Regions from separate parts of the Homo sapiens genome. Here all the other regions are linked to region 4. The links come from fine-mapping of genetic effects on gene expression. A gene starts in region 4. Each other region holds a variant in brackets. All regions are shown on one strand. Distances are between the middles of the regions. Region 1 has its middle 37 kb from the start of IL12RB1. Region 2 has its middle 27 kb from the start of ARRDC2. Region 3 has its middle 22 kb from the start of ARRDC2. Region 4 holds the start of ARRDC2 (arrestin domain containing 2).

The links. PIP is the estimated chance that this variant, and not a neighbour inherited with it, causes the effect.
Region 1: its variant is fine-mapped to the expression of ARRDC2 in whole blood (TOPMed, PIP above 0.99). The same link has a PIP of 0.9 or more in thyroid.
Region 2: its variant is fine-mapped to the expression of ARRDC2 in whole blood (TOPMed, PIP above 0.99).
Region 3: its variant is fine-mapped to the expression of ARRDC2 in esophagus mucosa (GTEx, PIP 0.92).

Annotation. Positions count from the first base shown.
Region 1 is chr19:18,048,248-18,050,930 of GRCh38, forward strand. It overlaps the pseudogene RPS18P13. Among named protein-coding and RNA genes, the nearest start is that of IL12RB1, 37 kb to the right of the region's middle. RefSeq lists a silencer at 1,121-1,282. The variant A/C (reference allele first, on the strand shown) is at 1,301.
Region 2 is chr19:18,034,255-18,036,937 of GRCh38, forward strand. No RefSeq gene overlaps it. Among named protein-coding and RNA genes, the nearest start is that of ARRDC2, 27 kb to the left of the region's middle. The variant C/T (reference allele first, on the strand shown) is at 1,004.
Region 3 is chr19:18,028,630-18,031,312 of GRCh38, forward strand. It overlaps the pseudogene CSP3. Among named protein-coding and RNA genes, the nearest start is that of ARRDC2, 22 kb to the left of the region's middle. The variant T/TAA (reference allele first, on the strand shown) is at 1,333.
Region 4 is chr19:18,006,965-18,009,647 of GRCh38, forward strand. ARRDC2 (arrestin domain containing 2) reads left to right here and starts at 1,206. Exons shown (of 8, transcript NM_015683.2): 1 at 1,206-1,620; 2 at 1,747-1,813; 3 at 2,007-2,154; 4 at 2,628-2,683. The coding sequence starts at 1,347. RefSeq lists an enhancer at 1,260-1,479.

The DNA of each region.
Region 1 (2,683 bases), 41 kb after region 4:
TGTATGGCCTTACGTTTCTGAGTTTGTAAGATTATATACGATTCATTTGTTCATTCATGTTCATTCATTCCTGGCCACATCCAGGTGCCTGCCTTATTTGGGGTAATGCTCGAGGCCCCAGCTTGGGAAGGTCCAGGCTGGATAGAGATATTCTTGTTCCCACAGGGTCAAGGCTAGGCTGGAGGGAGGTACCCAGGGCTGGGGGTCCCCAGCGATCCAGGAAGTGGGGGGCTTGCTGAAGAAGGGAACCTCATGCCAAAGGCCTGGGTCCCTTCCTCCTCATGCCCACCACCCCCATGACGAAAGCCAGAGAGGATGAGGGCAATGTGGGGCTTCCATACCCCAAATATGATCCTGGTGCCTGGTATGGAACCCCAGAGCCTGCCACCGTGTCTCTAGTGATCCTTGAAAAGTTCCAGCATATTTTGGGAGTACTCAACACCAACATCGATGGGTGGTGGAAAATAGCCTTTGCTATCACTGCCATTAAAGGTGTGGATGGAAGATACGCTTATGTGGTGTTGAGGAAAACAGACATTGACCTCACCAAGAGGGCGGGAGACTCACGGAGGATGAGATGGAATGAGTGATCACCATTGTGCAGAATCCACAGCAGTACAAGATCCCAGACTGGCTCTTGAACAGACAGAAGGATGTAAAGGATGGAAAATATAGCCAGGTCCTAGCCAGTGGTCTGGACAACAAGCTCCGTGAAGACCTGGAGCAACCGAAGAAGATTCCGGCCCATAGAGGGATGCACCACTTCTGGGGCCTTCATGTCTGAGGCCAGCACACCGAGACCATTGGCCGCCATGGCCGTACCTGTACCGTGGGTGTATCCAAGAAGAAATAAGTCTGTAGGCCTTATCTGTTAATAAATAGTTTATGGCCGGGCGCGGTGGCTCACGCCTGTAATCCCAGCACTTTGGGAGGCCGAGGTGGGCGGATCATGAGGTCAGGAGATTGAGACCATCCTGCTAACACGGTGAAACCCTGTCTCTACTAAAAATACAAATAATTAGCCAGGTGTGGTGGCACACGCCTGTAGACCCAGCTACTCTGGAGGCTGAGGCAGGAGAATCTCTTGAACCCGGAAGGCAGACGTTGCAGTGAGCTGAGATCATGCCACTGCACTCCAGCCTGGGCGAAAGAGCAAGACTGTCGCAAAAAAACAAATAGTTTATATACCAAAAAAAAAAAAAGGAAGAGGAAAAAAAACCTGAGCCCAAAGCCTAGCCCTAAACGTCACCTCCGGTCCCCATTCCCGGCTTGCACCGGGCAGCAGCCAACACCACGGGGA[A/C]GTGGCCTGGGCTTCCCGCCAGACTGCCTGCTGGAAAACTAGCTCTGGGAGGTGGGGGTGTCACCATCCAGTATGTGAGGGTGGAACCTTCTGGGCTGACCATTTATGGGACAGGCCCCTAGAATGGGAGGCCCAGGACAGCCGGAGAGCCACAGAGCCCAGCAGCTGGACCAGGGTGACCATGATGCCACTGGGGCTGGGACACCTGCACGAGACTCTTCAGGAATAAGCCCCTATTTCCCCACCTAAAAATGGAAGTGGGGCCGGGCACAGTGGCTCACGCCTGTAATCCCAGCACTTTGGGAGGCCGAGGCGGGTGGATCACTTGAGGTCAGGAGTTCGAGACCAGCCTGACCAACATGGTGAAACCCCGTGTCTACAAAAATACAAAAATTAGCCAGGCATCATGGTGGGGGGCCTGTAATCCCAGCTACTCAGGAAGCTGAGGGAGGAGAATCACTTGAACTGGGAAACAGAGGTTGCAGTGAGCAGAGATTGTGCCCCTGCCCTCCAGCCTGGGCCACAGAGCGAGACTCTGTCTCCAAAAGTAAAAAAAGAGACAAATAAACAGAGAAACAAGGAGAGACAGAGGCAGTGAGAGACAGAGACACAGAGAGATACACAGGGAGACACAGAGACAGGTGAAACAGAGACAGAGAGAGATGAGACAGAAACACACAGAGAGACAGACACAGAGAAACAGGGAAAGAGAGAAAGGGAGACACAGGGAGACAGAGACAGAGAGACAGAAGTGAGACAGAGAGATGAGACAAAGAGACAGAGAGAGAGACAGGGAGAGAGATGAGAAATGAGATAAAGAGAAAGATGACACAAATATTTTGGGAGGCTGAGGGGGGAGGATTGCTGGAGGCCAGGAATTAGAGACCAGCCTGGGCAACATAATGAGACCCTTATCTCTACAAAAAGAAAAAGAAAAAAAAAGATGGCAAAGAAAGAGACAAGGAGAGAGACAGAGAGACAAAACACAAAGATAGAGAGAGAGGGGCACAGGGAGAAAGAGACAAAGAGGGGCAAGACAAGCCAGGTGCGATGGCTCACTCCTGTAATCCAAGCACTTTGGGAGGCCGAGGAGGGCGGATTACCTGAGGCCAGAGAGTTCAAGATCAGCCTGACCAACATGGTGAAACCCCGTCTCTACTAAAAATACAAAAATTAGCATAGTAGGGTGGCGCACGCCTGTGATCTCAGCTACTTGGGAGGTTGAGGCAGGAGAATCTCTTGAACCTGGGAGGTGGAGGTTGCAGTGAGCCAAGATCACGCCATTGCACTCCAGCCTGGGCAATAGAGTGAGACTCTGTCTCAAAAAATTAAAAAAAAAAAAATTAAAAAAAAAAATAAAAGCAAGTCAGAGAAATAGAGACA
Region 2 (2,683 bases), 27 kb after region 4:
CCTGGGCAACATAGTGAGACTCCGTCTCTACAAAAAATTTAAAAATTAGCTCAGTGTGGTGGTATGCACCTGTAGTCCCAGCTACTCAGGAGGCTGATGCGGGAGGATCGCTTGAGCCTAGGAGTTCAAGGCTGCAGTGAGTTATGATTGCACCACTGCACCCCAGCCTGAGAGACAGAGCAAGACCCTGTCTCTGTTTTAGAGACAAATACATGTCTCTAATATATATATAATATATGAAAATATATATCATATATATAGATACATACATGAATATATAGTATATATTTATAGTATATCTATGTATAGTGAGACCCCATCTCTACAAAAAAGAACAAAATTAGCTGGGTGTGGTTGTGTGGGCCTATGGTCCCAGCTACTCAAGAGGCTGAGGCGGGAGGATTGCTTGAGCCCAGGAGGAAGTCAAGGCTGCAGTGAGCCAAGATTGCACCACTGCACTCCAGCCTGGGCAACAAGAGTAATAACCTGTCTTTAAATTTTTTTAATGTAAAAATAAATAAAAATTTAAAAGAAAAGGCTGGCCAGGTGCCATGGCTCACGCCTGTAATCCCAGCACTTTGGAAGGCCAAGGCGGGTGGATCGCGAGGTCAGGAGATCGAGACCATCCTGGTTAACACGGTGAAACCCTGTCTCTAGTAAAAATACAAAAAATTAGCTGAGCATGGTGGCATGTGCCTGTAATCCCAGCTACTCGGGAGGCTGAGGCAAGAGAGTAGCTTGAACCCAGGAGGCGGAGGTTGCAGTGAGCCAAGATCATACCACTGCACTCCTGGGTGACAGAGCAAGACTCTGTCTGAAAAAAAAGGCAAGGCAAGGCAGGGAAGGGCAGGGAAGGGCAGGGAAGGGCAGGGCAGGCAAGGCAGGGCAAGGCAGGGCAAGGCAGGGCAAGGCAGGGCTGTTTGGGGCTTCCCTTGCTCTCTGGCGTGTTTCTCTTACCAGATGATGCCTGCACCACGTGATAACACAGCAAGGAGACCCTCGC[C/T]GGATATGGCCCAATCTTGGACTTCCCAGCCTCCAGAACCACAAGCCAAATAAACTTCAATTGTTTATAGATTACCCAGCCTGTGGTATTCTGTTACCACAAAGCAGAAAGCTAAGACAGTTGTTTCTCTGAAATTTGAAGTTAACGGGGTGCCTGGATGTGTATTTGCTAAACCTGATCCCCCTGTGATGAAGCCTCCCACATCACAAAAAAAATCTTAGAAATTTAAAACTTAGCCAGGTATGGTGGTGCACACCTATAGTCCCAAACTCAGGAGGCTGAGGCAGGAGAATCCCTTGAGCACAGAAGGTCAAGGCTGCAGTGAGCCATGATCGCACCACTGCATTCCAGCCTGAGTGACAGAACAAGACCTTGTCTCTGTCTTTTTTTTTTTTTTCAGACAGAATCTTGTTCTGTCGCCCAGGCTGGAGTGCAGTGGTGCGATCTCGGCTGATTGCAACCTCTGCTTCCTGGGTTCAAATGATTCTCCTGCCTCAGCTTCCCGAGTGGCTGGGATTATAGGCGTGTGCCACCATACCTGGCTAATTTTTGTATTTTTAGTAGAGACAGGGTTTCACCATGTTGAGCAGGCTGGTCTTGAACTCCTGGCCTCGAGTGATCAGCCCGCCTCAGCCTCCCAAAGTGCTGGGGTGACAGGCGTGAGCCACTGCGTCTGGCCTTCACCTTTCTCTTTTATCCTTACTTTTATTTTTTTTTAGACCGGATCTTGCTCTGTCGCCCAGGCTGGAGTGCAGTGGTGCGATCGCAGCTCACTGCAACCTGGACTTCCCAGGTGCAAGTGATCCTCCTGCCTCAGCCTCTCGAGTAGCTGGGACTATAGGTGCATGTCACCGTGCAAGGCTAAAACTTTTTTTTTAAAGAGATGGGATCTTGCCATGTTGCCCAGGCTGGTCTCAAACTCCTGGGCTCAAGCGATCCTCCTGCCTCGGCTTCCCAAAGTGTTGAGATTACAAGTGCGAGCCAATGCGCCTGGCCTTATCGTTGCTTTTGAGGTGAGAAGATGGAGGTCCAGCATCCAGGGCCAGATTTGAGCCCACTGGGTCCTTTGTCTCTAGCCTTAGTAGCACTGGCCATGAAATGGGACTTTAGCCAACTGCAGGTGACCAAGAGCCAACCTTGCATCTCAGGCTGCTGGGCCCCTCTGAGCTCAGCCCCGGGGGCTTGTTGCAGGAAGGCCCCTCACTTTTATTTATCCCCCCACCCCCACTGTATATGTAACTGTCTGAAACTCACTGTTAACCCCATAAGGAAAAATGTGCTGGCTGGGCACCATGGCTTATGCCTGTAATCCCAGCACTTTGAGAGGCCGAGGTGGGAGGATCACTTGAGGTCAGGAGTTCGAGACCAGCCTGGGCAACATGGTGAAACCCCGTCTCTACTGAAAATACCAAAATCAGCCGTACATGGTGGCATGTGCCTGTAATCCCAGTGTCTCAGGAGGCTCAGGCAGGAGAATCGCTTGAACCCGGGAGGCAGGGGTTGCAGTGAGCCGCGATCACACGACTGCACTCCAGCCTGGGTGACAGAGTGAGACCCCGTCTCAAAAAAAACAAAACTCATTCAACTGTACTTTATTGGATATAAGTTACACCTTAATACACTTGACTCAAAATTTATGTATTTAATATTTTATTTTGAGAATGTGAGAAAAAAAAAAGT
Region 3 (2,683 bases), 22 kb after region 4:
AACTTTGTTCATGGACACTCAAGTGTGAATTTCATGTAATTTTCACATGTCATCAAATAGTCTTCCTCTGGTAGTTTTTCAGTCATTTTAAAATGTAGGCCAGGTATGGTGGTTCTTGCCTGTAATCCCAGTGCTTGGGGAAGCTGAAGTGAGAGGACCGTTTGAGGCCAGGAGTTCAAGACCAGCCTGGGCAACATAGGGAGACCCCCTCCTCCATCCTTACAAAAAGTTTTAAAAATTAGCTGGGATGCCTGTAGTCTCAGCTATTCAGTAGGCTGAGGTGGGAGGATCACTTAAGCCTGGGAGTTCGAAGCTGCAGTGAGCTATGATCCCGCCACTGCATTCTAGCTTGGGTGACTGAGAGAGATCTTGTCTCTAAAAAAAAGGAGGGAGCCAGGGCCGGTCATGGAGACCATCCTGGCCAACATGGTGAAACCCTGTCTCCACTGAAAATACAAGAAAGAAAGTAAAAAAAAAAAAAAACCCAAACTAGCTGGGCGTGGTGGCAGGCGCCTATAATCCCAGCTACTCGGGAGGGTGAGGCAGGAGAATCGCTTGAACCCAGGAGGTGGAGGTTGCAGTGAACCGAGATGAAGGCACTGCATTCCAGCCTGGGGGATAAGAGTGAAACCCATCTCAAAAAAAAAAAAAAAAAAAGGAGCCAGGAGCGGTGGCTCACACCTATAATCCCAGCAGCACTTTGGGAGGCTGGGGCAGGCGGATCACTTGAGACCAGGAGTTCTAGACCAGCCTGGCCAACATGGTGAAACCCTGTCTCTACTAAAAATACAGTAATTATCTGGGTGTGGTCCCAGCTACTCGGGAGGCTGAGGTGGGAGATTAGCTTGAACCTGGGAGGCAGAGGTTGCAGTGAGCCGAGATTACGCTGCTGCATTCCAGCCTGGGCGACAGAGTGAGACTCTGTCTCAAAAAAAAAAAAAAAAAAAAAAACGGAAAAAAAATTGAATACTGTTTTGGGGTCATGGTTAAAGCTGAAGTTTACCAACCCCTGATGGGTCATAAGTGTCATGATTTGTGTTTACAGAGTATCAGAACTTTGTTTAAAGTTACCAGCTGATAAAATATGAGGACAGGTTTATGGCTAACAGGGTTTCATCATTGACAGATAGCAAGTATCAGGATTAGTCTTTTTTCACAAAGTATCAGAACACAGCAAGCTCTGATGGCTAATCAGGTGTCAGAACCTGGGTTTAAGTCCAACCCTGCCTTGGGGCCCACGGCACCGCGGTAACCACCAACTACTGTCCACTCTCAGGATACTGTTTACTAAGTATCGAGTGACAGGCTGATGGCAAAGTATCGGGTCATGGA[T/TAA]GTCACACTGTGAGTTGGGCACTGTGACAGCGTCTCTAGATGCCAGCTGTTTACAGTGACAGGAGACTGGCTGTTTACAGGGGATGAGTCAGCCCCACTTCCAGATACCCAAGTCCAGATGGCGGGTAGGATTGGCACCTCTCCAGGTGTTTACAGGGTACTGAGGTCCTGGCAAGCTGGGCTTCTCTCCTGCGGCCACCTCTAGCCAGGGTGGGGAATGAGTCCCCTGAAGGCTGTGGGACCCATGATCCTGGTTAGATTCTCCTTCTGCTTGTCCCTGGCTGTGCTGCCTCAGGCACATTACTTAACCTTTCTGGGCCTCTGCCACCTCATCTGTAAAATGGGCATGATGGTGAAGCCAGGTTGCCAGATAAAATATAGGCTACTCAGCTAAATGTGAAGTTCAGATCAATATTGAATTTGGTTTTACTGTAAGTATATCCCATGCAACATTTGGGATATACTTATACTAAAAAAAAATTATTCATTGATGCTATGGTTTGAATGGTCCCCCAAAGTTCATATGTTTGAAACTTAATCCTCAAAGCAGTCCTTTCAACCTTGTCAACCTGTCGGCGCGGCCTCTGGTGCAGTGGCGGCGGCTCCTGTTCCTGCCGCAGCTCTCTCCCCTTCTTACCTCCCCACCAGATCCCGGAGATCGCCCGCCATGGCTTTACTTACTGCGGCCGCCCGGCTCTTGGGAACCAAGAATGCATCTTGTCTTGTTCTTGCAGCCCAGCATGCCAGTGCTTCCTCCATGAATTTGAAAGACATATTGGCTGACCTCATACCTAAGGAGCAGGCCAGAATTAAGACCTTCAGGCAGCAACATGGCAAGAAGGTGGTGGGCCAAATCACTGTGGACATGATGTATGGTGGCATGAGAGGCATGAAGGGATTGGTCTATGAAACATCAGTTCTTGATCCTGATGAGGGCATCCGTTTCTGAGGCTTTAGTATCCCTGAATGCCAGAAACTGCTACCCAAGGCTAAGGGTGGGGAAGAACCCCTGCCTGAGGGCTTATTTTGGCTGCTGGTAACTGGATGTATCCCAACAGAGGAACAGGTATCTTGGCTCTCAAAAGAGTGGGCAAAGAGGGCAGCTCTGCCTTCCCATGTGGTCACCATGCTGGACAACTTTCCCACCAATCTACACCCCATGTCTCAGCTCAGTGCAGCTGTTACAGCCCTCAACAGTGAAAGTAACTTTGCCCAAGCATATGCACGGGGTATCAGCCGAACCAAGTACTGGGAGTTGATTTATGAAGACTCTGTGGATCTAATCACAAAGCTACCTTGTGTCGCAGCAAAGATCTACCGAAATCTCTATGGAGAAGGCAGTGGTATTGGG
Region 4 (2,683 bases):
CACTGTGCCTCCAACTCCGTCGTTCCTGTTCCGATCCCCATCACGGGCTGAGGGTGACCGTGTTTGTTTATGACCGCCCCCTCCACCCACACACCTCACTGAGGTGGTGGAAGTCTCCTGAGCCAGGCTCAGAGGCGGACAGTCACGGCAGGGGATGGGTTCAGCGGCAGCGCATTACGCTGCCACGAGAGGGCGCCAGCGTCCCGCAGACGACGCAGAGGCAACTCCCGCTGGAGAAACTCCATGCGACTTTTCTTTGGGGAAACTGAAGCCCAGAGAGAGGTCACGCCGTCCCGTGGCCACACCGCAGCTGTGGACCTGGGGGTGCCCGAGCGTCCCCTGCATTCAGCTCTGTGGCGGGACGGGGGCTGAGGATGACTGGAGCAGGCACAAGGGCTGCGGGGAAGGTAGGGTTTGCCAGAGGCTGAAAATTGGGAAGGGAACATCATTTCGTAGGTACCGCTCCTGGGCGAATGCGCCGAGGCGCGACCGAGTGACGGTATGTCAAGAGCAGGTTGATGACCCGGGAGCGAGGCTCTTGGAGGAGTCCAGCTGGGGCTGCACGATGATCCATGCACAACCTTCTGAGGTCAGGACTGATTTTTACTTTCTCCCGGCTCTACAGAGGTGGAAACTGAGGCTCCAAGAGGTTGTCATTTGCCCAGAGCCACCAGCTAAGCGGGACTTGAATCAGGAAAGGGGTGCAGCAGGCACCAGTGTGGAGGGCGGTCCCACCCACCTCCTCCACTTCTCCCTTTGCATAGCGGGGGAAACAGGCCTGGAACAGTCATAGGCTCTCTGGCCCTCAACTGGGGCGAGAGTCCCCCGCCCCAAATCGGGCTGGACATGCCTCGAGTCACGTCAACGAGGGGCGGCTGGTGAGTGATTAAGCCGAGAGGCTGAAGGCTCTGCTAGGTGACCTCAGGCCTGGGCCCTGCCTCTGCACCTCTTTTTTTCCTCTTTACCCCCGGGGTCCGCGAGAGACCAGCTCTGGCAGCCTAAGGGCTTCAGTTTCTCCCCGGGGTCCGCGAGGGAAGGGGGCAGCCGGCGGTGAGCAGGGGCGTTTGTTATTTTGCTCCACGCCTGGGCAGAGCCACGCCCCTTGTCGCGCTATTGGTGGAGTCCCTTCCCGGGGCGGGGAAGAGACGGTGACCCCACCCCCCCCCGCCCTGCCGTATAAAAGCGGCGCCGACGCACGGCGCGGGGATTTTCTGCTCCGGTTGGTGAGCGCGCCTGCGCGTTGACGGCGATTTTGCGTTCTGAGGCTGCAGCGTCGGCATCTTGAGCTGCCGGTTCGCGAGTTCGAGGCCAGGTTCCGCCTGTCGTGGGTTCGCACCCCGGACGCGATGCTATTCGACAAGGTGAAAGCGTTCTCGGTGCAGTTGGACGGCGCGACCGCGGGCGTCGAGCCCGTGTTTAGCGGCGGCCAGGCCGTGGCGGGCCGGGTGCTGCTGGAGCTGTCAAGCGCCGCGCGTGTGGGTGCCCTGAGGCTGCGCGCGCGGGGCCGCGCCCACGTGCACTGGACCGAGTCGCGCAGCGCGGGCTCGAGCACGGCTTACACGCAGAGCTACAGTGAACGCGTGGAGGTCGTGAGCCACCGCGCCACGCTCCTGGCGCCAGGTACGGATGGAGGACCCCTGCTCCAACACCAGTTGTGTGCCTCCCACCACCTGGACGGCGGTACCTCCGTCAGCCCTGGGACCCCAGCGCAACCGCTCAGTCGCCTCCTTTTTCTCCTACCTGCAGATACCGGGGAGACCACGACGCTGCCTCCTGGGCGCCATGAGTTCCTGTTCAGCTTCCAGCTGCCCCCGTAAGTCCTCTGGGGTGCAGGGTTGCCCTAAGCCTGCAGCCCCTTCCAGATTGGTACCTCCAATACTGGATATCTGGGCACCTCTGAGCCCCAAGACTCTCCCCCTGGGAGGCCCCCGGAGTGTCTGTGTCTCCTTCTCCCTGCCTGCTTGTCTCTGTATCTTGTCCCCTGAAGTCCCGTCCCTCCACCCTAGGACCCTGGTGACATCCTTCGAGGGCAAACACGGTAGTGTCCGCTACTGTATCAAGGCCACCCTGCACCGGCCCTGGGTCCCAGCACGCCGGGCAAGGAAGGTGTTCACTGTCATCGAGCCTGTGGACATCAACACGCCAGCCCTGCTGGTGAGTGGCCACCCTTGGGGAGGTAGGTTGGGAGTATTGTAGGAAGGGGCCTGCCTGGCTGCTGGGCGACACCAACCAATAAGATGGAGGTCATAGGTGGGCCCTGGCAGGGAGGGAGGCAGGTGTGGGAATGCGTGTGGAATCCACTGGGATCTGCACCCATTTGCCGTGTGACTCTGGGCAAGTGTCTTGAAGCCCTCTCTGAGCCTCAGATGCCTCTTCTGTGAAATAGACCAGAGCTAGGGCTTACCAAGTGTGAATTACACACCAAACACTTGGCTTATACATTTCATTTCTGGCTTTATAAGATGGGTTGTGTTCCTGGCTCTATTTAACGGATAGTTCCTGGATTGTTAAAAAGAAACCAAGCCCTGCCCAAAGTCCTCCCTCAGCTGGGGGTGGTTTGGAAGCTCCACAGCGACTGTGGTTTGCACAAAGTGACTCATCCATGTCACTTTCCTCTACACCGACAGGCACCTCAAGCGGGGGCTCGGGAAAAGGTTGCCCGATCCTGGTACTGTAACCGTGG